4 linked regions of the Homo sapiens genome follow. The protein of the gene in region 2 interacts with the protein of the main gene of each other region in a pairwise test. Each region holds a gene or a part of one and is shown on either strand. Other genes may lie near its edges. The genes, in order: EXOC5, DEUP1, ZNF148 and CEP57.

Region 1 (7,032 bases), on a different chromosome or scaffold from region 2:
GATTGAATGGCTACTCTGCTAGGCACATTGCTGGGTCTTATCATTTGTCATTAATATATCATCATATAATATATTATTTGATCATCTTTTTCTTTTGAATAATAATGATGGAACTTTATTTTTAAAAATACCAACCATGGGAATGGGGAGGGAGACAAATAATCAAGTGTATTTAAAATGCCAGCAAATAAAAGTAAGAACAGTAAGTCAGTTTTGGGACTGGCTGGGTTGTTAGTGTCTTATGCAGAGCAGTTGATTCTTTAAAAAGAGAATTGATTTTCAATGTGAATTTCCTAAATGAGAACCAGCTACCTACCTACATTAAGTTTTATCACCTGGCATGCTTCCTATCAGAATTCTCTCCTCTGATTTTGTCTTTTTTCTTTTTACAATAACCTTTTAACTTTATAATGGTTTTGGATTTACAGAAAAGTTGCAAAGATAGTACAGATGGTTCTCGTATCTCCTGCACCCAGTTTCCCATTTGGTTAGCATCTTACATTGCCATAGGATGTTTATCACAACTAACAAACCTCATGGTTGGTTTTTGTCTTTCAGATTTTCAGAAGTTAAATCCAAAATTGCAAGTAAGTGATGTATTTATTTTACCTTTTTTTTAATAAGTAAAAAAACTACTTGTGTAAAAATAAAACAGCAAAAGGAGAAAAAGCAGGAACAATGTCATCTTCCTACCCTAGTAGGCTACTGCATAGAAGATCCCTGAGTTTGATTTCTCTTCCCTCAAAACAACCATTACCAGTTTTTTTGGATATTCTTGCAGAATAATCTATGGATATACAAGCATAAGACATAAATTCTATATATGTGTGTGTGTACATATGTATGTGTATGTATAGATATTTATATGTACTTCTATCCTCATTTATTTTTAAATAATTGCTACCATACTATATAAATAGCTTTATACCTTGCATTTTTAATTTAATAGTGCATTTTGGAAATCCTGTGCTTTCCATACATCTATCTCTGAATAAGATTCTCTCTTTTTTTTTTTAAGATTATATAAGCATTTCAGTATCTATTTAACTCCTTACATGATTAGTTTGGTTCTTGCCAGTCTTGGATTTTAGTTTAGGTTAGATCATTCTAGGTTTTTGAAAAGACCACTAAATTTGCAGGTTCTGTGGTAGCTGGGGTCACTATTTAGAGTAGGCCACTGCATAGAAGATTCAAAGATTCATCTATATTCCCAAAAAGTCTTAGAATAAGGATGACACAGCTAGTTAGACTTCCTGGGAATATTTTTGATCACAATAGATTGGTCTGAAGTTCAGGTGTTCGTTAAGAACCATACTAGCCTCAAGAATATAGTGAATAGGGCCGGACATGGTGGTTCGCACCTGTAATCCCAGCACTTTGGGAGGCCGAGGCGGGTGGATCACCTGAGGTCAGGAGTTCGAGACCAGCTTGGCCAACATAGTGAAACCCCGTCTCTATTAAAAATACAAAAATTAGCTGGGTGTGGTAATGGGTGTCTATAATCCTAGCTACTCAGGAGGCTGAGGCAGGAGAATCGCTTGAACCCAGCAGGTGGAGGTTGCAGTGAGCCGAGATCGCGCCACTGCACTTTGACTGGGTGACACAGAGAAACTCTGTCTCGAAAAAAAAAAAAAAAAGAAAATGAAAAAAATATAAATACTGCATATTATCAGGATGAGATTTGGTGTTCAGTCATCAGTCCACTATTGTTCTAGGTAGAGGCATCAGAACTCTAGTAAAGAGTTCTGTAGTCCTCTTCACCCTTTCCATGTGTAGGATTTTTCATGTGTGTTGCTATCAGAAATAGCATCTGGAGGATTTTTTCCAGTCAGCTACTGGTTTAAGTAACAATGGCATATGACAGTCAGACCCTGGAAAGCTCAGTAATTTTGCCAGTTTGGAAGTTTTTTGTCTTGAAAATATAGATTTATATGCCACAGTATATTACAGGGGCTGGGTTCACGGCCTATAATCTCATTTGTTTTTGTAATTCCTTCAAAAGAAAGCTATATTCATAGTCATTATATTTGTAAATAATGTAGATACTCTTAAATAACGTGGATGCCTTGTATGCCTCAGTGTAGCTGAATGACTTTATTTTTAGGTAAATACCATGATTTAGAATGCCAGCTGATTCAGGAGTTTACCAGTGCTCAAAGAAGAGGTGAAATCTCCAGAATGAGAGAAGTAGCAGCAGTTTTACTTCATTTTAAGGTAAATAGTAGGAATTAAAAATGAATAGTGTTCAAGGCTATGGAAATTACGTAAGTTCTATATATTATAGTCTCTGATTTCCCCCATTCATTATGTAACTATCACAGTGATAATTTTCACTGTTTTGAGTAATTTGTACATTTGATACTCTGTAAATGGTATTGAATGTTATATATTTAATATTTAAGGTTTTATATTCAATAATATTAATATTGAATTAAAATTAATTGATCAATTAAATATTGATGAATTTTTATACTTTGATAAAGAAAATCATATTGTCTGCCTTTTTGCTTCCACATATTATAATATAGGTGAAAAGAAAGAAAACGTGACCGTAAATATCTGTAGGATATAGGAACCAGAGAGTAGATGGAACATGACTAGTAAGAGACTTAAATCCAGGGGACCTCAGGAGGTAATACAAAAGAATTTTGTATTACGGAATTGTTTACCTAGAATTTGAACTCGGGAGAGAATCCCTGTGTAGGAGTATATTTCTGCAAAGAAAGTGCTTAAAGAAATGGTTCTTCCTTCAATCTGTTTCTTTGATTTGTATCAGATTAGGGAAGGGGAAGCTATTTGTTGGACTTTTCATTTTGGTAAAATCTGAATGAGTATTGAGAATGGCTCTTGAGACAGTAGTGCACTTTATATTGCTTTCCTTACTGGTTTTTATGTATGATTTATTAATAGGCAAAAATCTCATTATGGTGAGCTTAATGACAAATCAGTTTGTTTTAAACACATTTTATTAAAATACATTTAGTTTAAAAAGTAAATTTCCAAACTACCAGCTGAATACAACTGTCCAGATTCTTGCAAGGAAAACCAAATGCTAGAGAAGGCCAGGCGCAATGGCTCACTCCTGTAATCCTAGTATTTTGGGAGGCCGAGGCGGGTGGATCAGTTTAGCTCAGGAGTTCGAGATCAGCTTAGGCAACATGGTGAGACCCTGTCTCTACAGAAAATACAAAAATTAGCCGGAGGGGAGGCATGTGCCTGTAGTCCCAGCTACTCGGGAGGCTACAGCAGGAGGATCGCATGAGCCTGGGAGGCAGAGGTTGTAGTTAGCCAAGATGACACCATTGCATTCCAGCCTGGGTGACAGGAGTGAAATCCTGTCTCAAAAAAAAAAAAAGAAATATATATATACACATATATATATATATACACACACACACACACACACACACACACGTATATATACACACTTTAATATATATAAATATATTTATATGTATATAAAACACATACATATATATATGTAAAACCTTTTCCCAAGACCTTGACTCTCTGTGTATGTGTGTGTTTGTGTGTATGTGTGTGGGTGGGTGTGAGTGGGTGTGTTTTGGAGTTGAAGGAGATGGCTAGATGATCATAGGACAAAAATTACTCTAAAGAACTCAGTTACATACTTCATCTTTCTTGTTTTAGTCTAAAGTTCAACAAGGATATGTACCAACTGATAAATTTTATCATAGAAAGTGACTAGGGAGACGATACCTTTATCAAGTTACTGGTTTTCTGCAGTTAATTTTATTTAAGTCCAACAGGTGTTGCTATTGGCCATTTACTGGTAAATAGTCATAGCTTTATGACATATAACACTTCTTTTTTTGAAATAATAATTATTATAATTGAATCAGAATAATAACAATGTGTTTCTTCCTTGTAGGGTTATTCCCATTGTGTTGATGTTTATATAAAGCAGTGCCAGGAGGTAACATAACAGTACACTTTGTTGGATATTATTTTATGCTAATTGTTGTTTTAAAATCATGTAGAAATTATATGTTCACTGTATAAAATGTCTCTGCTGTTTAGGGTGCTTATTTGAGAAATGATATATTTGAAGACGCTGGAATACTCTGTCAAAGAGTGAACAAACAAGTTGGAGATATCTTCAGTAATCCAGAAACAGTCCTGGCTAAACTTATTCAAAATGTATTTGAAATCAAACTACAGGTAATTTTAAATAGTAACAAATTAAATAGTTCTTAAAGCAATATGTAATTTTTTCCCTATATTTTAAAAGTATTTTTAAAATTTAGTTTACTTATGTAATGACCTTAGAAATAGTAATCTAGTTAAGGAGAAAGGAATCCTCATGCTTTTTAAAAAATGTTTTGTATTCACCAAGAAGAAAGTGCTAATCAATAAGTATCATCAGAGAACATGCTTGAAATTTGTGTAGTATTCGTAGTAGTAGTATAATATATTGTGGTAAGATAGCCTTGAAGATTTTTCTTTTTTTTTGGTCCCTGCCTTCACCAATAGATGTCATTTGTGAAACTGAACAAGAATTACAAGAGCAGTCTGTAGAATTTTTAATAATATGGTACTAACCTGAAAAGGGAAAACACAGAAATTTAATTTACCCCCATATCACTGTACTTTCAGATAACATTTCCTAAGCTGTTTACAACTGGATTAAACAACATTCAATAAATGTTTGCTTTTTTTTTTTTTTAACACAATTCAGGAATTTTGATAGTATTGTCATTCTCTAGAAGTGGGGATGTAATGTACAGCATTTCACACATTTACTGTCTAAGAAACCCTGTTTTGGAGTAATGCCTATAGACATCTGAAGGAACACTAGTGTTACCTGGAACTCAGTTTGGGAGATGCTGCCTTAAGGAATTGACTCTATTGTTTGTACTCTCAGTTTTGTTTTTTTGATGCACCTCACAGAGCAGAATAGGCCAATTTAACAGAAAAGGTATTATTCCTAAGACTGATAAAGATCCTCTACAGGTAAATATGAGAAGTGGTAAAATGTAAAAACCTGTTTTAAAATATTTTATGATTGGTTTGTTTTCTGTAATTGCCTTTTTGATTGGATTGTAAGTCAGAAAGGTTCAAAACTGTGGAGTGAATTTTAAAAGAAAAATATCTTGAGAAGTTGTAGAATTTAATATTTACCTAATTAACAGAATGTTAACCTTTTTCTTTTAGAGTTTTGTGAAAGAGCAGTTAGAAGAATGTAGGAAGTCCGATGCAGAGCAATATCTCAAAAATCTCTATGATCTGTATACAAGGTAAATTTTTAATGATTAGAAAATAATAGATAACAGATTTTTTAAATTTTTTTGATAAAAACAAGGAAGTATTCAGGTATTTTTGAATAAGTTTGTCACCAGTTTACCTTTTAGCATTAAATGCTTAGCTGTATAGACTAGTTATATTGTACAAGACTGTATTGTACAACATTCTTAATACATTAACGTCAGGAATTGGATGTTATGCTTTATTTTTTCTCTAAGCATTAGTGTAATTACATTTATCTGCAGTCAAAACTTTAGAAACTGCAAAAGGAAGTGATGTAATCTTAACAAATGACAATTTCAGCTCTAAATCTTCTGTAGGAATTTGTCTTGTGCTTTTGTAAATGTCAGTGTTACTCTTAGAGATTGTCTCAGAAGCTTCATATGGAGTCTTGTGGGGTTTTTTTTTTCCTTGACTTTTCCCAACCCTATTACTCTTCTTCAGTGTCTTCATTTTGGGAGAAGGTTTTTCCAAAGTTACCGTAATGAGGAAGTCCATCTCAACAACAACACTGTTATGACCCTATCTTCAGCAATGGGAAATAGAAAATTAGAGGGAAAGTCCACAAGGACAAAACAAAAGAGGGTGAACAGACAGTAGATCTTTCAGTACTCTGTTTTGGGTCCCATGTGATGAATGGCATTAGACATACTTGAGGCCAATCTGCCACTGTCGCCATTTCTGGACTAGTTAATTGCCTCACAAGTTCTTTTCCTAGGAATTTATAACAGTTCTCAAAACCGTAAAGTTGTTCGTAATATTTCACTGTATTTATATGTAACCCTGTAGAGTTGATCTCTGCATCATAAGTACTCTCCCAGAGTTTAAGAAATGGTGGCTTAACATAAGTCATGAAAGTCACGTTGTAAAAATTTGTATTCCTTAATATTGTTACTATACCTAAAATGTATATTAATCTTTTTCTCCCCCTTTTTCATGAAAAGAACCACCAATCTTTCCAGCAAGCTGATGGAGTTTAATTTAGGTACTGATAAACAGACTTTCTTGTCTAAGCTTATCAAATCCATTTTCATTTCCTATTTGGAGAACTATATTGAGGTGGAGACTGGATATTTGAAAAGCAGAAGTGCTATGATCCTACAGCGCTATTATGATTCGAAAAACCATCAAAAGAGATCCATTGGCACAGGAGGGTGAGTATTTTTGTTAAATACTTCTGTTAAAACTGAAGACATTAATAACTTCATTATATTTGGGCAAATTATCAAATGTTGACTATCATTAGAATTTTCTGTGAAGAGTTCTTTTAATCCAGATTGTTATATTATTGATCAAATCTTGTTCTTAAACCACATGTTGAAATGACCTAACATAACATGATTGAAATGTAAGCCGGGCGTGGTAACTCACTCCTGTAATCGCAGCACTTTGGGAGGCCGAGATGGGCTGATCACCTGAGGTCTGGAGTTCGAGACCAGCCTGGCCAACGTGGTGAAACCCCATCTCTACTAAAAACACAAAAATTAGCTGGGCGTGGTGGCAGACACCTGTAATCCCAGCCATTAAGGAGGCTGAAGCAGGAGAATCACTTGAACCTGGGAGACGGAGGTTGCAGTGAGCCAAGATTACGCCACTGCACTCCAGCCTGGGCGACACAGCAAGACTCCGTGTCAAAAAAAAAAAAAAAAGTAAAGTAGATATTTGTCAATTAAAAAATAATGTTTTAAAACTATCGAGCAGAACACTAGTAATATAAAAAGTTCCATAGTTTCTTTCATTTTTTTTTTTCTCGATAGAATAAGTTCC
Region 2 (7,032 bases):
TCTGCTTGCCATCCACTGGGAAAGTGACAAGCAACAAAACAAGTCAGAACAAAATACGAACTAAATGTGGCATTCATTCTGACTGGGGTTTCAGGGGTGGCTTCGTTGAGGGGAAGATTGGCACTTGAATCAGGCCACATAGGATGTAGGATTTCAAAGGCAACAGCAAGAAGAAAAGCAAGGAAATAGCATGCTTGGCATATTTGAGGGAAATGATCAGAATTGAGCCCAATCCAACCAAAGAACAAGGGAGAAAACCAGACATTCCAATGTTCTAGCCTGAGGATAAAAGTAACCTCAACTGAAGCACAAGATAATTTACCACCCAACTCCTTCATGTCTAACACACAGCAAGTGCTCAATAAATGATGTCTAGGTTAATCGTGACCAATTCAGTAATCTCTTTGTTCAATTTATTGAATGATGTCAGCATATTACCATGTATTCTCCGGGGTCTAAATCTCCCATCATTCCTTTTAGATGTGTGTTTTCAGTTCTGACAGCTTTATATTTCATATCTGAGACCTGAAATTAGCAGATAAAAGGCAAATGTAAAATTCATAATAAAAACTCATAATTCTATTAAAATTTTGTCTTGTGAATACAAATATTTTCTAAGTGTAATGAAGGGAAACACTTCTTCGGTACGACCAATAACATTCAGGTATTCTTATTTAGTTCTCCTGTCTTTGGCAGGCACCACTTTACGTCTTTTTCTGATCAATGCTAAACTACAAGCATATACTTTCAATAATGATTCATTTAGTTTTGTCCTACAATCCCAAAATTCCATTTCTGGTTTCTATTTTCTATTGTATGCAAATTGTCACCAGAAAAAGCACATGTTAAAAGCATGTTTGAGTAACTGTCCATTAAATTTATTCAACACCTGATTAATTTTTACAATAGGCAATACATAACTTTCATGTTTAATTTTGTTCTGATATTTCTGCCAAAATTCCATCTTTTTTAGTGACTACTTCATTTTGTCTCTCAATTTATTTTATCTTTCCCTGATTTATTCTACTTGACAGGACTTGGATATGGTATCTGTCCTTTTACTTCTCTAGGACTCATTTCTGTATAAAACACGTGCCTTAAAAAGATTTAATTTTGTAAATTACCAATTTATGCTCATTGACAAAACCTAGAAAACGTACAAAAATATAAAGGTGAAAATAAAAATTATTCATAATCCAACTAGCCAGATCACTGTTAACACCTGTAAAATATCCCTGCCTATACAGGTACAACCAAAGAGATTATCCCATCTGTGCTGTTTTCCTGTGTACTGCAACAATAAATCACGGTTTAAGGCTTACAACTGGGCAAAGGCTAAATCTTTTCTGTTTTCATAATTCACGATTTTAGTCATGTTATTTGTGAAGTGACCCTCATATGCCTAGAAAATTATTAAATGATGCTCTCAAAACCTTTAGATTTGGGGTAAAAAAGCAGATAAACCCTGTGCTCTCAATAGTAGGCCATCCATTTGATCATGAGTAAGGGATGGAGGGAATTTAAAAAATAAATAGGCAGGAAGGAAAGGAAGGATGTAGAAGTTACTTGTAGTATTTTAACAGAAGAATGTTACAATTGCTGTTTTTCCTCACGTACCATGCTGTGCATTGACTGCATGTTCAGTAAATATGAACTAATTTTCATGTTTCAACATCCATTTGTAAAAAGCCTGAAAGAAATACATGAAGTGTGGGGGAGGGGTAGGAAGTGTTGAAGAAGAGCTGGAATAGAGACTTTTTTTTAAAGATAAAAATGTTAATGGAAGAGAAATACAGAAAAACATACTCAGGAAGAAATATTTGATTAGAGTGTACTGTGGGAGGTGATCAGAATATAGGTTACAAGAAAATGGAAAGATGAGATTTAATGAAATTGTCTTGCACTGTCATTTCCCTAGTCCTTTTTGTTGGTGACACTTTGTGTTATCTCTGAAAGGTTTTATGTAACACCACAAAGCATTTCTGTGAAGCTAGTCTCAGAAATAATACCAAGAAATGTAATGTTTTCATTAGTCAATAATGAAGGCTACTATTGGCACTGAGCAAGAATGTGCCCTAGACAAGTGCTATTCTGCCTGCTTGCATACCTTTTGTTTTGCTAACATTTTTTCTTTTATTTCTAATTCCATTTTTAACTGTTTTTCCAGAAGGGCAGCTTTCTTTGTGACAGTTGCTATAGTGATCTCCTTCTGATGAAGCTCTTCTGTTAGGTCAGAGATTTCATTCCTCATTCTTTCCTGCTCAGAGTTATGGTACTCTTCCACCTGTTGGAGTTGGCTTCTTATCTGCAGCAGATAGAGACTGGAAATATTATTGAATCCTTTTATTTATAGAGTAGCTTAAAATTTTACTGGCCATGTTCAGTCCTTCTATTCTGAAACTTTGTCAGGGCCCACTTCACCCTCCTTTTCTGATCAATGCTAAATTAAAAACAGATACATATAATAATGACTCATTACCTTTTTTCCTTCCAATTCCAACATTTCATTTCTCACTTCTATTTTCTGTTGTATGCAAATCATCACCTATGACTGATACTACTTTGATAACCACTTTGAGAGGAAGGTAAAGAAAGTATTATCAAGCATTTTCATGGAGAAAAAAATTGGCTTTAAAATGGTTACATGATTTGCTCAAAGTCATAAAGCTAATAATCGGCAAAGCTAGGACTGGAATCTAGGACTCTTGGCTTTAAATTCAGTGCTTTTTTAAAACTAAAATAGGCTGTACTGTTTGTAACTAAACATTTGTTTCTCAGAATCACATTACAGTAAACTTCAAACAATGTCTTCATGAAAACTCATCACTTCCCTTACTTAAGCCTCTTATTTTCTGAATCTTGGCTAAGCTTCCATGTTACAAACCTCTGGATTGTCTCTGACTCCTCTCCACCCTTGTCCTCCCAAACCTGGTCAGGCAATGAATTCTGTCCATTCTATTTCAACCTCTTTTAAGTCTTGCCTCTGTCTCCATTCCTACAACTGCTGTCTTTGTCTAGCCTCTTAGCATCTTTCTAGAAACCATTACTGTTTCTAATTCTTGAGACTTAAAGTACATAATCATCCGTCTAAAAAAAAATCATAGTCCATTGGGGAAACAGAAAAATAGACGATTACAACACAGTGTAGCAATTAGTGTCAGCAGTATGTAGTGGCAGTGTGTTTAACCCAGCCTAGGGATGACAGGATAGGATTCCCAGAGGAAGGGTCATCAGACCCAAAACTGAAGGATGAATGAATGCCAATTAGAGATGCTCTAGCCGGGCGTGGTGGCTTGTGTGGGAAGCTGAGGTGGGAAGGATGCCTGGAACCCAGGGGGCAGAGGTTGCAGTATAGTGGGCTGAGATCATGCCACTGCACTCCAGCCTGGGTGACAGAGCAAGACCCTGTCTCAAAACCCTGTCTCAAAAAATAAAAATAAAAAAAATAAAAAGGCATAGAAAAAAATAGAACATATAGATGCTCTATGAAAAGTAAAAACATTAGCCGGGTGTGGTGGCATGTGCATTCAGTCTCAGTTAGTCGGGTGGAAGGGGCACTGGGGTGGGAGGATCCCTTAAGCCTAGGAGGTCTAGGCTGCAGTAGGCCCTGATTGCACCACTGTATTCCAGCCTGAATGACACAGCAGGATCCTGTCTCAAAAAAAAAAAAAAAAAAGAAGGAGGAAGAGAAGAAGAAGGAGGAGGAGGAGGAGAAAGAAGTAGAAGGAGGAGGAGGAGGGCTCAGAGGAGGAGGAGGAGAAAGAAGGAGGAGGAGGAGGGCTCGGAGGAGGAGGAAGAGGAGGAGGAAGAGGAGGGAGGAGGAGGAGGAAGAGGAGGGAGGAGAAGGAGGAGGGATCCCAGGCAAAGAGCTCAGTGAGTGAAAGCATGGCACACTCAGTGAACTAAAAGGAGTTTAGGGTAGCTAGGAGTTAGCTGCTCTGAGAAATAAGGCTGGAGAGTTAAGTAGAGGCTAGCCACAAAAGAAACATGAATTTTCTCCAGGGCACTTTTTTAAAATGGATTTTTTTTTTCATTTCACCTTTAAACATTTCAGTATATATCTTTAAAAGAACAAGGCTCTCTCTTTTTTTTAAATGTAGCCAGAATGTTATTACAATGTCTGTAAAGATTAAGAATTCCTTAATATCATCAAGTATCTAGGCAGTATTCAAATTTAAGCTTGTCTCAAAAATATAATAAATGTTGTTTAAGTTTAATTGAATTAGTATCTAAACATGATCCATTCATTGTGACTGGCTCATATATCTTTTTAAAGCCTCTCTTTTTGTGTGTTCTAAGTAGTTTACATGCATCATCTCATTTAATCCCCACAATGTCTCTCTATTTTGCAGACTACTGTATTTAGCAGATTAGAAAATTAAGGTGCATAACTTTTCACATCACATTTCTTGTGAAAGGCAGTCTAATTCCAGGACCTGTGAACTATTGTGCTCTGCAACCTCTGTGGGAAGGGTCCTGGAAGGTGTGGAAGGTGGTTCACATTTGGAAAAACCTGAGTTTTAGGGGTTGACACCTACAGAGAGATTGGAAAAATCTGGGTTTTAGGGGATGACACCTAGAGTGAGATCAGAAAAAGCTGTGTTTTAGGGGATGGCACTTAGAGTGGGGTGACCTAACATGGAAAGTACACATGTCCAGAGGCAAATGTGATCACCATCAGGCTTTATGCCACCAACCCTTCCTTCATCTGATTCTATTCATATTACCAGCATATTCAGAGTTTCAGAGTTGGATATGACCTTAGAAATCACATGATCGAACCTCATCATTTAACAGATTTTTTTAAAAAAGAGTCACAGGAACGAGAACAAGGCGGAAACTAAGAGACACGAGCACAAGTATCCTAACCCGGAGGACAATATTACAAATCTCCTTTAAATCTCTTCTGTCTCCAAGTTTTTACCTTCCAATTTATTTGATGAAATAACACGGTCAGTCTATAGTTTGTCCCAGTATGGATTTTGCTGATCGCATCCCTTTGGCATAGTTTAACCTGTTCCACTTAAAATGGAACTTTTTTTTTTTTTTTTTTTTTGAGATGGAGTCTTGCTTTGTCACCCAGGCTGGAGTGCAGTGGCACAATCTTGGTTCACTGCAACCTCCACCTCCCGGGTTCAAGTGATTCTCCTGCCTCAGCCTCCCGAGTAGCTGGGACTACAGGTGAGCACCACCATGCCTGGCTAATTTTTGTATTTTTAGTAGAGACAGGGTTTCACCATATTGGCCAGGATGGTCTCAAACTCCTGACCTCGTGATCCGCCCACCTTGGCCTCCCAAAGTGCTGGGATTACAGGCGTGAGCCACGGCACCTGGCCAAAATGGAACTTTTAAAATATAAAAAAATGAATATACTACTGTGAAAAAGGAGTAAACTATTTTTATTATTTTCACAATATTTAGATGTTAACACAACATACTATACTGCAAAACTTCTTTCTTAATGAAAGAAGAAACTAATTTACCTGAACTCCAAATGACTTTTGGTTTATTGAAAATGTGAATGTTATCACAAAATAAATGGCTAAAACAGTTCTAGACTGGAAAAAAGGAAAAGAAATAAAATACTTGCAAGATTCATAATACATAGCTCTTGTTAGTTTTATTACAAAAGAATTAAAATGCTCTTCAGAAACACTTGGAAGCTTTTTTTTTTTTTTTCCTGAGACAGAGTCTTGCTCTGTCGCCCAGGCTGGAGTGCCATGGCGCAATCTCGGCTCACTGCAACCTCCGCCTCCCGAGTTCAAGCAATTCTCCTGCCTCAGCCTCCTGAGTAGCTGGGATTACAGGCGCCTGCCACCGCGCCCAGCTAATTTTTGTATTTTTAGTAGAGACGGGGTTTCACCATGTTGGTCAGGCTGGTCTCAAACTCCTGACCTGGTGATCTGCCTGCCTCAGCCTCCCAAAGTGCTGGAATTACAGGTGTGAGCCACCATGCCCGGCCACTTGGAAGCTATTTATATAAAATTCATTTGTTACCTTTTTTTTGCACAGCATTCTGGTATTTAGTGGCCTCCAAGGGTCTATAAAGAATTCTGTGCCTCATACTCTCTCCCACCATGTCAAAACTGTGCAAAGTCAGTAGATTCTTTATATTACTCAAAGTTTTATTACTTTATCTAAATCTATGAGGTTAAGAATCATGTAACTATACTTTAGGTGGCTTTAACCAATCTTTTATCATTCACTGGGGACACCAGTAAAAAAGAGTTTTTCAAAGTTATATTTTTAAGTCAGCAAAATAAATTTTGTGGGATTATATGGCATTAAAGTGTTCAAAATATATGAAAAATGATCACTGATTCATAACACCTTTTCTCTACTTAACCTCTGTTAGTTCTCTGACAGTCAACTCTTTGGCAGACAGTACCTGTCTTTCATATTATTGTGTTTCCTATAGAAATTAGCAGAATAGCTATAGTTCTCCTAGATACTCAACAAATGTTTGTTAAATTTGTACAAACAACTGAATTTATGACCCTATATATTTATGGGAAAATTTAGCCTTAATATTAACTCATTCTCTAAGTATTTAATTTACTGTGTGTCAAGCACTATGCAGTGCACTAATTGATAATTCAAAGCCACACCCAGGTTTATTTAACTTTTAATTGTTTAGATTTTATAGCATTAAATATTCTGCCTGATCCTCAAACCTAAAGACCAGAGAGGTGGAGAATAGCTATGATAAATTCACAGAAAGAAGGCCATTACTGGATTGTACTAGAGGGAGGAGAGAATCATACTCTTTGTAGGAGAGTAAAGAACCACAAGCTCTTTAAGGACAGTGCCCAGGACTTACTCATCCTTGTATTTCTAGCTCCAGCAGAGTTCCTGGCACATGTTAGGTGCTCAGTGAAAAAATGTGGGTGCAATAAATAACTACTGAGCCAATATTTACTAGATACTTCCTCTGAGCTAGATCCTATTTTAAGCACTTTAAGTGCATTATCTCATAGATTTTACCTTAGGGTAAGAGTATGGATACTGGAGCCAGATTGCCTAGATTGAAAC
Region 3 (7,920 bases), on a different chromosome or scaffold from region 2:
TAGCAAGCATCCTTAAAATAGACCAATGTCATCAGCCTTATAAAATTGTTGAGGCAAAGATTATGCTCAGAAATAAAATATCTGAAAAATGGCAGTTTTTTTTTGCAGGTTAATTTTTTTTCCTAGTGCCATCTACCTATTGCATACCCTTTTTATTCCCCATGGAAAACATTCTGAAAGGTATTTTCCCACCTAAATCACCTCTCTCAACATGTTCTTTTTTTTTTTTTTTTGTCCTTGTATAGTTTCTCTTCTTTTCCTCACCCCAATCCACTTGTAGAAACTGATGTCTTTTCTCTATTGAATTTTATTTTTAGGAAATTTGGTTCAGTGTTACCTTTAGGTTATTTTAAATAGTAATAATAGCAACTACAATATCAACACCACATAGAACATTTAACTATGTGTCAGTTATTGTTCTAACTGCTTTACATTGCCAGGTGTGGTGGTTCATGCCTGTAATCCCAGTATTTAGGGAGGCCGAGCTGGGAGGCTCGCTTTGAGGCCAGGACTTTGAGATCAGCCTGGGCAATACTGCCAGATCCTATTGCTACAAAAATACAAAAATCAGCCAGGCATGGTGGTGCACACTTGTAGTCCCAGGTACTCAGGAGGCTGAGGTGGGAGGATCACTTGAGCCTGGGAGTTTGAGGCTGCAGTGAACTATGATTGTACCACTGCCTTCCAGCCTGGGCAACAGAGACCTTGTCTCTAAAATAAATAAATAAATAAACAAACACTAAACTACTCTATGTTAATATTTAATAGCCATAATATCCCTAAAAAGAAGGTACTATTCTTAGCTCCATTTGCTAGATGGGGCACTTGACAGCACAGAGAGGTTAAGTAACTTAAGATTGCAAAGCCAGTAAGTGGTAGAGTCAGGATTCAAACCCTGGCTTCAGCTGCAGAATCTGTGGACTTAATCACCAGACTAACCTCTAGGCACTAGTAGATATTATCCTCATATTATTTATTTTTTCCTTACCCACAAATATCATCCTGGCCCAAGACCTCATTTTCATTCATTCTTATGTATCTTGGCCTTTCAGTGGTGTCTTCCCTTGTGCCCCTCTAAACCATAGTTATCTCACAACTGATGAACTTTAGTGCAACCTAGTACCTTCTTTAGATGTTTCTAAGAGGTGCAGGGTTTTTTGTCTCAAACTCAAGAAATTACCTCCACTCTATATCCTCAGCAGGAGACAGTAGACTATTCATTAGTTTTAGAATATATCAGCTATCTGGGATGCCCTTTGCCCTCCAGCGGAGGGCTAGGTAAGAGAGAATAAACAAAAAAGCTAAGAAATTTCTGGCAAATAACCTTTCACCTAGGTCCCCAACCCTTCCATTTCCCCAGGCCTGAAGCATATCTGAAGCAGGAATTCAGGGGGTCCCAGGATGTCCCAGGAAAAGAACTCCTTTAGGAACAGGAAAAGCCATATTTTTCTGGGTACAGTAGGAGTGACGCAGTAGAGGCAGGTTCTTGTGGATTAATCTGTAGCAAAGCTATGAATTTAGAGTTTTGCAAAGAAAAGGACAAGTTTATCCTTAAGGTAGAACCAGCTTTGACGAATGGCTAGTGCTGCAGGGAGCCATAAGGATAGAGAAGACAGAACTTCCATCTAGTCTTGAGTCTGAGAATACTAGAAAAAAGGAAGGAAAGAGATTACTAGAGGAGGGTCTGAAGACCTGGTGAAGCAGGAAAGAGATGGAAGTACATTCTTCTCCTGGAAGGAGTGCAAAGACCAAGCCTCAGAACTAATTCCAGAGCCAGAAGAGAGGAAAGAGGCCTTGGGAGTCCCTGAGAATCTCACCTGTCAGAACAGCGGTGCCAGCCTCTATGGGTTAGGTCACATCAGAGAAGATATACCGGGGGCTATGGACTTAATCTGGCCCACAGGCATGTTTTGTCTGACATGCTTTTGTGTTCTTAAAAAAAAACAGAATGAGTTGTCAACATTTAATATTTGTGAGGTTTCACCCCAAAACTCAGATTCCTGACTTCTCTTGATTTCCTAAATATTACATTCCCCCTTGGAAACCATCAGCTGGAAGTGTCTGTGCCCTTTAGATTTGCTTGAGCTGTGGACCTTTATGTTTAGGTTAAAACATCAATCTCAAAAGTTTACATGCTGTATGATTCCACTTAGATAACATTTTTGAAATGATGAAAGTATAGAGATGGAGAATAGTTTAGTGGTTACTAGAGGACAGGCATGGAGTTGGGTGAGCGGTTGCAGTGCGGAAGGGGATTTGTGAATACCAAAAGGTAGTATGAGGGAGTTCTTTTGTGGTGATGGAACAGTTCTATGTCTTCATTATAGGAGTGGTTACAAGGATCTGTAAGTGAGGTAAAGTTGCATTGAACCACACACACACACACACACACACACACACACACACAAAACAGAACACAGGTTAAGAAAATGGCAAGTAATAAGTTCTGAAGTCTATAGTAAACAGTAATGTACTGTTGTCGATTTCCTGGTGTGAAAGTTGTCACAATCAAAATGGAGTTACTAATGTTAAGAAACCCTGACAAACAGAGCTAGGGAAGGCTGCCTACGAAGAGAGGGTTCTTACATTTGTATACCTGATAACAAAAACTATCAAAAAAAGACTGCAAAACCCACAACCTTGCACAAAGGCCATCACAACCTTACATAAAAAAATACTTCTGCAAGGACATCTCCCCAGCAAATGCCTGTCCAACCTCGGACTGGCGTCACCCTTGTTATTGATCTTTGTAGTCAAGGATAATTATTTCAAAACAATTATGTAATCCTTTCCATTTTTTCCTTTAAACACCTTTGTCTTCCTTTACATCCCTGAATATGCGGTTAACTGTGATGTGTATATTTTCATTGCAATGCTCTATTCCCAAATAAACATTATTTTCTTTTAGAAAGCCTCTCTGTTATTTAGGTTGACACTGATTTTGATGTCTTACTAGAGCTTTGTAAGATGTCACCATTGGGGAAAGCATGGGACTCTGGACTATTTTTGCAACTTCTTGTGAGTCTATAATTATTTCAAAATAAAAAGTTAAAAAAAAAAAAAAGGAAAAGTAAGTAGGCTGAGTACCTACGGGTGGTGTTTAGGGAAGTGAGCAAGAGGAGCATGGAGAGCCAACCTGAAGCTGAGAAGTTTTTCCAGTTTAACTTATAAAGGACCTAAGCTTGCTCCTCACCATCGCTTTTGCTGTTACTATCCCTGTAGTGCTCTTCGTTCTGCCCATTTTAGACAGCTGTTTCTCTATCGCTTGTTAGGCTGCTGAGCAGAGAACTAGATCTATTCCTAATAGCAAACCAATCAATCCTAGCCCATTGGATGTAACCTCCAGGCCTTGAGCCCTTTTCAGTTATTAGTTTTCCCACTGCCTAATACTGAGAGTCGGCTTTCTTGCTGCCAGAGGTGTTTTTCATTATGACGTCTGAATTTGATGCCACTGCGGGTGCTAGAAGTTGCCAGAAGGCTGTCCTCCAGATAACTGTCCCTTGGCTCTAACTTGTGTCATTGTTTTGTTGCAATTAACATTCAGAATATGTGCGGTCATCTTATTAAAATTTATATTTTTTAATGGAGAAAGCACACAGAGAGAGTTGATTGTGGAGCTGTGGTTTACTCTTGCTCTTAGTTACCTGTGTCTAAATTAAGCTGAACCTCTGGGCCTTAGCTATTTCTAAACAGGCATCACGATTTACTAAGGTTAATGCCTGAGGGAACATTAACCTTGCAGACACTAATCTAATTCAGTGTCATCACAAGTGCATAATGCAGGAGTTTGGAATTTTGCCAAAAAGCACTATTCAAATGAACATTTAGTTGGCAAGGGGTGGGAAGGCGGGTGTGGAAAAGGGAAGGAGAACACCAGAAATGGCTCTATAGATATTTTCATGCCTTTTCTTTTCCCTCTCCCCTCAAAGGTTACGTTTAAGTATTGCAGAGAGGCGCTAAATGGAATCTTCATATTATTATGAAGAAATCCCAATGAACGCGTTTTATCCCACGGCAAGTTCCAGATGCTCACAATTACTCAACATTCACTGAGCATCTTTTATGTTATATGGCTGACCTTGTGCTAGGGTGTGTACACAAAGATGAGTAATTGTAAACGATGGCAGTATGCAGAAGCACCTCAGGGCGCCTAATGTTAGCTGACGAAGGCACCATTAAGGAGGTCACAGTTTGGCTAAAGGGCCCCCAAAGGATGAGACAACTGTGTAATCCTAGCTCTATAGAGATCATTACCAAGTCTTTGCCATACAAAGTTTGGGCTTCAGGTGAAATGAGAAGGGCAAGGTTCTGCCCAAGAGGGTCCAGGGCCGGATCTCTTGATCTGTGTCTATGCCCACACCCTGCATCTCAGCTTGCAGACACTAATAGGGTTTGCCAGTTTCAAGGGCGCAGGGCTACATCTTCCGGAAAAGGTGGCATTTGAAGGTGGTAAGAGGCCAACGACTGGAGGTGGCGGCGAAGGGCTAGGTAAGACAGAATAAATGAAAAAGCCAAGACATTTCTGGCAAATAACCTTTCACCTAGGTCCCCGACCCTTCCATTTCCCCAGGCCTGAAACGCTCCCGAATCCCCGAGTCCTCCACTTTCCAAGCGCTGGGCATTGGTTAAGGCTGTAGGAGCAGGGAGTCCCCCGCTCTAAGAGAGTTCCTCAGTTCCGATCTTTTTCAAACCGCTTTCCTCCCAGGCCCAGCCTGGGGGGCCTGCGGCTCGGGTCCAGCTTCCACGGCCACCCTGGGCTGGTGACACGCAGGCGCCGGAATCGAAGCCACGCTGTGTCTTTCCAGCCAGGTCTCTGCGCCAGACGAGGGCGGGCGCCGCGGAGCGCTTCCCGTGTGCGGGGCTTCCCACAATGCACCGGGCCGGCAGTGGCGGCGACCGCGGCGGCGCTCTAGCTGCGGCATGTCTGCGTCTCTACTGCTCTGGGAGGAGGAAGAGAAGGAGGAAGAGGAGGAGGAGGAGGAGGGGGAGGAAGAGGAGAAAGGCGCAGGGGTGGGAGCTGTTGCCGAAGCTGCCACAGCAAAAGTTCTCCCCCCTCCCCCCTTCCCCTCCTCTCAAGGCCCCTAGAAAGGTTGGAGCTGCCGCCGCCTGCAGTCGGTGACCGCGCGACTCGGCGCCCGCCCGCGGTAAAGCGCTCGGCCTGGCAGGCCCGGGCCCGGGGGAGGGCGGGGGAGGGGGAGGGGGCGGCGCGCGGGGGGAGCGCGCGGCGGTAACGGCCTGACCCCGGGGGGAGCGAGCCGTGGCGAGGCTGGGGGTGGCCAGGGGGCCAGCCGAGGCCGAGGGAAACGCTGGGGCTGGCTGGGGGACGTGAGGAAGCAGGGCGCGGAGGGTGGGTTGGGGGGTTGAGGAGGGATAATGACGGGGGTGGCGGAGGCGAGAAGGCGGCCTCCGAGGCTGGAGGCGGGTGTCAGAGGTAGGGGAGGAGGTGGGATGTTTGCACGGGGAGGCCGGAGGGTGCTGGGTGTGGGTGTGAAAAGGCTAGGGAGACACCAGGGCTCTGTCCACCGTGCCTGGTGCAGTGCTTTATGCACCGCAGGCCTCAGTCACTGTTGCTGCCGGAGTGTGCTCTTTGGGAGAAGGGAAGGGCAGGGGTTGGAGAAAAGGGAATGCTTGCAGGAAACGTAGTGGGAGTGCGAACAGGGCGAGGGGCCGGAGGAAAGATGCCGGAGAGGTGGAGGAATGCGGGGAGGTGGCTGTGGAGGAGTCTTGAGGATTCTGGGGGGTGTTCATTGTGCAGATACGTTAGGTATTTCATTATGGAAAGAACTGAAGCGTTTCTCAGGGAAGGAAAGAAGGGAGATAGGAGTTCCCGTGAATAGAAAGGATCGCGTTTGAAGCAAGAGGGAGTGCTAAATAGTAGAGAAGATGCAGGGAATGCATAATAGAATAGACAGATGTAGTATAATTAATAAATATTGGCCTAAGTACTGAAGAGTTATTCCAGATGGGCCGGGATGGCCTAGTTCCGAACCTGTGTGGGCTGTTCAGTAGATGACATCTGGTAAGTGTGGGTCTGGGCCGTGGTTGGGGTCACTGAGAATTAGATTTTAGTCTGTAGTTTGGTCTGTGACATTTTAGACGTGCACCAATGAGTATGAGAACCTCTGAAGCAGACCTTGAGAAAGGGTCTGGCCTGTGGGGATTCCTTAGGCTATGGAGCTTCGATTTTAGAAAATTTGAAGTATTAACACTTACCCGAGGTTGGGTAAATACTATCCTGGCAAACGCTGGAATGGAAATTAATTGACTTGGTGGTTTTCTTCACTGCCCAGTTTATCTGGTCCAGGAGAATTGGTGCCGTATTATTCAGCCTGGATTGCAGTACACAAGATTATAATTAATGGTCGGGGGGAAGACATGCTTGCTGGCTCTTCTTTAGATACTTCATTTGTAGCTCAAATTAGTTGGCTGGATTGGTTCCATAAATCTGTGGCTGGTGGGAGATCTTCTGCCATTCACAGTTCCTGAAGTGAACTGTGAGGGAGTTCTCCAGTGAGAGAATACTCTCATTCAGGCATGATGGCATTGAAGAAAACGTATCAGCCAGCAAAGTGTGGGCCTGCAGAATGGAGGAGCTAGAATATCTGTTTTGGTTTTAGGTTGCAAGGAGGTCAGGACTAGTTATCAGAAGGTCTAGGGGAACCTAGGAGACTGGACGACTCTAGAGCCAGGTTGGAGGGAGGATTAGCATCTCTATGTCAGGAAATGAACCAAGCTCTCTCTGGATTTGCTGAGCTCACACCAGACCAGATTTCCAAGAGGGAACTCTGGGCTAGAACCATACTCTTAAAAACTACCCGGATATTATTCACCTTTTATTAAGAAAAAACTATATACAGCTGGGCGCGGTGGCTCACACCTGTAATCCCAGCACTTTGGGAGGCCGAGGCGAGCGGATCACCTGAGGTCAGGAGTTTAAGATCAGCCTCGCCAACATGGTGAAACCCCATCACTATGTGAAACCCCACCATGCCAGGCTGGTGTCGAACTCCTGGCCTCAAGTGATCCGCCCGCCTTGGCCTCTCAAAGTGCTGGGATTACAGGTGTGAACCACCATGCCTGGCCAGGTCTTTTTTAAACATAGTATGCTGTACTCAATTTTATTGTCATCATGGCATGAGAAGGCTAGTCTTCCTTCCCTTTTCCCTCACCAGCACTGTATATTATCTGTTCTTTTAATTTTTGTAAGCAGAATGCACTTAAATATGTCATTATTGTCTTTCTACCCTTTTTAAAAAAATTTTTATTTATTTATTTTTTTGAGACGGAGTTTCACTCTTGTTGCCCAGACTGGAGTGCAATGGCGTGATCTCGGCCCACTGCAACCTCCACCTCCCGGGTTCAAGCAATTCTCCTGCCTCAACCTCCCAAGTAGCTGGGACTAAAGGTGCCTGCCGCCACCCCTGGCTAATTTTGTATTTTTAGTAGAGATGGAGTTTCTCCGTGTTGGTGAGGCTGGTCTCGAACTCCTGACCTCAAGTGATCCACCCGCCTTGGCCTCCAAAGTGCTGGGATTACAGGCGTGAGCCACTGTGCTCGGCCTCTACTCTTTTATTATAAAATTGTTCTGAGGGAACTTACAATGAAAAACAGCAGCCCCTGTCTCACCTGCCTATTGCAGTTCCACTTTACTGAGGCTGCTACTTTTAAGCATTAATTTTGTATTTCTTACCATGCTTTTTTCCATGTCTCCAAGTAATGGGCATATAATATTATTTCTTGATTTATCAAAATGACATTATCGGAGTCAGAAGATGTTTATGAATGTGTCATTGACATTATCCCCTTTCTCCTCCTTTCTGACCTTTGATATTTATTTTAGTTATTTTATTCAGTGTGTTTATATTTTTAAATAATATGCTTAAACCTTGATTTTAGAATCCAACAATCTTAGGCTGTATC
Region 4 (4,728 bases), 2.4 Mb from region 2:
TATATAAACATCTAGGTAGAGTAAAAATATGATACTAAAGTCTTACGGGACCACTGTTGTATATGTGGTCTGTTGTTTACTACATCATCATCTGGCACCTGACATCACATTCATTTTAGCTAAACTTAACTGATAAGACATGAGTGTTTGAAGAGCAAGATTCATCTGTAGACTTTACATATACAATACTCTTTTGGGGAAAATAAGAATATAAAGAATTAACCTTGAAATTAAGAACTCTTGCATTTCCCTCTAGTGCCTTTCTTGAACTTTTAAATTCATATTTTTAATTAAAAATTTCTTGATCTAGGCTAGGCATGGTGGCTCACACCTGTAATCCCAGCACTTTGGGAGGCTGAAGTGGGCATATCACATCCTGGCTAACAGGGTGAAAACCTGTCTGTACTAAAAATACAAAAAATTGGCCAGGCATGGTGGCAGGCGCCTGTAGTCCCAGCTACTCGGGAGGCTGAGGCAGGAGAATGGCGTGAACCCGGGAGGCAGAGCTTGCTGTGAGCCGAGATCATGTCACTGCACTCCAGCCTGGGCGACAGAGCAAGACTCCGTCTCAAAAAAAAAAAAAAAATTTATTGCTCTGTTCAAAAAATGGAGTCATTTTTTAAACACATGGAGCAGTAACCCATAATGAGGTATAATAGACCTAACCATGAAACACAGAAAACTTAACCATGTTCTACTTCTGCTTTGTATATAGTGATCACCAGCAGCTTGCAAAACTTATCCAGGAGTCGCCAACCGTTGAACTGAAAGACAAGTTGGAGTGTGAATTGGAGGCATTAGTGGGAAGGATGGAAGCAAAAGCCAACCAAATAACTAAAGTTCGAAAATACCAAGCCCAGGTAACTCAGTTTTCCTTCACTCAAGTTTCTAATGATTAAGAAAAAAAAAACACTTTAATTCAAATATTAAATGATGACACTAAGTGTATCATAGATAAATATCTACAGGAGATACTTCTTTACTGAAGACATTTGTTCATTGAGAATTGGTAAGTGGATTAAGAAAGAAGACACTTTTAGTCACTTAGCATATTCATCTAAGAAACATCTTTCAAATACTGAATATATTTAATATTCTTTATGAATAAGCTTTAACTTCTTTGATGAATTTAAATTGGAGTTTATCCAAGTAAGTTTTTTTAAAAGCACCTGCGAAATTCTGTTTCCAAAGGAATAAGTCATACATTAAATATGTGAAATATATTTATGTTGCTAATCATTTTATATCAGCCAACAATGTAGTACTACCAGATGCAGTGGTGACATCACACTCAAGGGTTTTCAACCAGAGAGAAACATGATTCATATATTTAAGAGATTACTGTAGTGACTAGGGGTAGGGTAATGGGATCAAGGCAGAGAGGCTGAGAGATCAGCTATAGATGTATCAGAGGTGGTCAGCAAGACAGTAGTTGGGTTTGGGCAGAGGTAAACAGATTTGAGGTATGTTTTGGAAGTAAAAAAAATATTGGGGTTACTTGCTGCTGGGTATCATGTAGAAGGAGAGGGAGTTAGGATGGTGATTCCACTGACTAAAATGGAGAAAGCTGAGAAGTTCAGAGAGCAGAACAGTTTTGTTGACTGTTGATTGGTAGCCATATGATAGACACACAGTGCCAAGTGCTCTGAGTATATCTTCTCATTTAATTTTCACAAAAGGCTTCTGAGGTGGGTATATTCTCATATTATAGATGAGGTAGATGCTAAGCCACATTTTCTGGGAAGTATGCATATATCCTCAGTGAAATTAAATAACTTGCCCAAGTACCAGCTTACTGGGAAATGGCAGAGCTGGGATGAAACTAGCCTTTTCAACTCTAAAACTTTGGCTGTTTTTTCAAAGTTCATGTATGAAAAAGAAATACAAGCAAATTATTCCTGTAGGAGTAAGGAGTAATGGTCTAATTTGTTGCTTATACTAATTAGACTTATTCTATTGGAACACCAACATGCCAGCATCAGTTTGGCTAAAGTAAAAATAAAGCTCCCGTATTTAAAATTATTCTAAAAATAATGGAACAAAAATAAAATTCTTTTCATAGTATTAATACATTACCAATTACATCTGTTCATCCATCTGGAAATTGCTTCTTTGCCTCCTCAGACTAGTTTCTAGAATATCTTTCTCCTCTTCTCCCATTTGTGAAAATCCTTCCCATTCTTCTTTTCTCTGTGTCTGATTTTTTGCCTCCTTCATGAGTCTTTCCTTCAACTCCCCTTGTTTCTCACTCGCCCTGTTCTGTACTTTGGCAATATTGCCTTAATTTAGGACAACCAGAATTTGTTTACTCATGTCTACTTGTTTGTGTATTGTTTTATATATATATAAGCATATATTTATTTATATTAATATTTAAGTGTTAAATGACTAGTGCAGTAGATTTTGAAGTCTTTAAAAGAAAGCCTAGAATGTATTATTTTTCAGTTAGCATGAGAGTTAACCAAAAAAAGGTACTCTTGTACTTTTTGTTGTCAGAAAAAAAATATTTTCATTAAATTCTCCTTTTCCTTCCTGCCTTGGTTATTTGGTATAGCTGGAGAAACAGAAGTTAGAGAAGCAGAAGAAGGAATTAAAAGCTACCAAAAAGACTCTTGATGAAGAAAGAAACAGCAGCAGCCGTTCTGGAATCACAGGGACCACAAATAAGAAAGATTTTATGAAACTGAGACCTGGAGAAAAAAGGAGAAAAAATCTTCAGTTATTGAAGGACATGCAAAGCATACAGAATTCATTACAAAGCAGTAGTTTGTGTTGGGATTACTGACTCATAACCAGGTCAGAAATTTTATTCAGATAATCTGTACCTCATCAATCAGATGATGACAATTTACTTCCCAGGTCTCATACTCACTTATGTTGGAATTAATTAATAGCAGGTGTTAAAGGACCCAGGCTTCATTACACAGGCTTTTCATGTATGCAGGATGACTCAATGTTAAAGCATTTAAATGGAAACCAGGGGAGTTTTAAAGCCCGAGAAACCACACATAATCTTTTGTTGAGATGAGTTTGCTGTACTGACGCTGCACTTTGTAAACAGATTACCAGTTTTTTACTTGTGGGTGTGATTTTTTAAAATAGTTCTTTATATATAATTAAAATTAGGTTTAAATTTTCAAAATATGAGACTATGCTATAGGCAGTGCTTGCTTGAAAAGTCTCATTTTTAAATCTCCCTGGCATGAGGTGCCCACTTCCCCTTTCCAAAGCAACCATTAAACATACTTTGTTTCTACTATTGGTGGAGTTTTTCTATATTTAAAAATACATATATATTTCAGAGGATTTTTATTTTGCTTTTTGGCATTTCAGACTTTGATCAGTGTTAAGTGCACTTGTATTGCTTTTTAATCTGTTAATTTTTTAAAGACCCAAGCAGTCATTTTGAGTTATATCTATAAAAATTATAAAAGGATTTTTGAAAGTATAAACAAATTGTCAGTGAAATAAATGAGATTTTGGAATAAAGTGAGAATGGGAGAAGGGATATGTTGTGAGCATATACCTTCACAGTTCTTAATACCTGTTTTGTAATCATGATATTCAGTCAAGGCATTATGGTTTTTAATCTTGAAACTTAGAGAACCCTTTGAATATTTGCTTTTACTGGTGTACAGTATGAGTGGAATATAAACTGTACACATAATTATCATGTTGATATAAATCATAATTTCAACTAGATCAAGACATGTTAACCTTTTATAAATTTAAAGTCAATAAAGCACCTTTTTAAAGGAAACACTGCAACTTTCCTTAACAGCCTGTTAATAAAGGCTTTGTGACAAGCTCTCAAAAAATGCATTTCTAAATAGGAGGACATCAATGTATTGATGAAGAGAAAAAACTAGTACTTAGTTGCCACACTCATGCTTACATAGAAAGAGAGCCCAAGAATATTAGATTTCCTCATGATACAAGATACTACAGTAACAGGCTTTAATTTAGGATCCTTAAGATTTTGGGGTATTATTTGTGACTCTCCTGAAATTGTAAACTTGTGCTTCTGTGTCCAGTTTTCTAATGAGTAGGTTCGTAGCTTGATTGAATTAATAATTGTGAGCCCATAGACACAAGGGAAGTGAGAAACAGTGCTCTGGTGACATGATAAATATATGTGTCAACCACCATTTCAGCTATTAAAAACTCCTGTTATCTCCTTGTTTGAATTTCAGGTCATTAAATTGTATAACCATCATTTGAATTGTAGTGGCTCTGAGTCCTAATTAGGAGAATGGTGATTGAATGATGCTAAATCCCACCCCTTTTCTCAGCTAGGATTCAAACTGAACTACTCCAGCTTTTTGTACTGTCAGGTGAGAAGTGAAAAAATACTGCTTCCATTTTCTTATCTGCAAGTTTACAGTAGAGGAATGTGTCATCCATCCACTTACGTTGTAACAGAGCTTTATTGCAATTCATTTCAAATAAGGTTATGTTTACAGACTTGTGGTAGACATGTGAATTGTTCATTCCAATATAATGTGAATTGCAGTGGTAGTAGCGGTATACACAGTGCTATGGGGGCACAGAGGAAGGTGGGGATGTCAGAGAAGGCAGTCGTGAATCAGATAACTTCCCAAAGGAAGAGATGATGCCTAAACTCTAGAAAATAGGAATTAGTCACAAGGGAGAACAGTTGTTCCAGGTGCACAAGACAGACTGAACCAAAGTGGGGAGGCAGGAATCTGCAGATTACATGAGGCAATT

What was found.
Region 1: the proteins of DEUP1 (region 2) and EXOC5 interact in binary tests that used the Homo sapiens proteins (3 or more experiments, as listed by UniProt).
Region 3: the proteins of DEUP1 (region 2) and ZNF148 interact in binary tests that used the Homo sapiens proteins (3 or more experiments, as listed by UniProt).
Region 4: the proteins of DEUP1 (region 2) and CEP57 interact in binary tests that used the Homo sapiens proteins (3 or more experiments, as listed by UniProt).

Annotation. Positions count from the first base shown.
Region 1 is NC_000014.9:57,230,893-57,237,924, reverse strand, and holds part of EXOC5 (exocyst complex component 5), read left to right. Parts: intron 1-558; coding exon 559-587; intron 588-2,104; coding exon 2,105-2,214; intron 2,215-3,892; coding exon 3,893-3,937; intron 3,938-4,041; coding exon 4,042-4,182; intron 4,183-5,175; coding exon 5,176-5,258; intron 5,259-6,209; coding exon 6,210-6,419; intron 6,420-7,032. UniProt on the Homo sapiens protein: Component of the exocyst complex involved in the docking of exocytic vesicles with fusion sites on the plasma membrane.
Region 2 is NC_000011.10:93,389,732-93,396,763, reverse strand, and holds part of DEUP1 (deuterosome assembly protein 1), read right to left. Parts: intron 2,322-7,032; coding exon of another isoform or gene 2,306-2,321; coding exon 2,108-2,305; intron 526-2,107; coding exon 439-525; intron 16-438; coding exon of another isoform or gene 1-15. UniProt on the Homo sapiens protein: Key structural component of the deuterosome, a structure that promotes de novo centriole amplification in multiciliated cells.
Region 3 is NC_000003.12:125,372,326-125,380,245, reverse strand, and holds the start of ZNF148 (zinc finger protein 148), read left to right. Parts: upstream 1-4,920; 5' UTR 4,921-5,144; intron 5,145-5,536; exon of another isoform or gene 5,537-6,019; intron 6,020-7,920. UniProt on the Homo sapiens protein: Involved in transcriptional regulation. Represses the transcription of a number of genes including gastrin, stromelysin and enolase. Binds to the G-rich box in the enhancer region of these genes.
Region 4 is NC_000011.10:95,828,472-95,833,199, forward strand, and holds the end of CEP57 (centrosomal protein of 57 kDa), read left to right. Parts: intron 1-715; coding exon 716-860; intron 861-2,554; coding exon 2,555-2,785; 3' UTR 2,786-4,222; downstream 4,223-4,728. UniProt on the Homo sapiens protein: Centrosomal protein which may be required for microtubule attachment to centrosomes. May act by forming ring-like structures around microtubules. Mediates nuclear translocation and mitogenic activity of the internalized growth factor FGF2, but that of FGF1.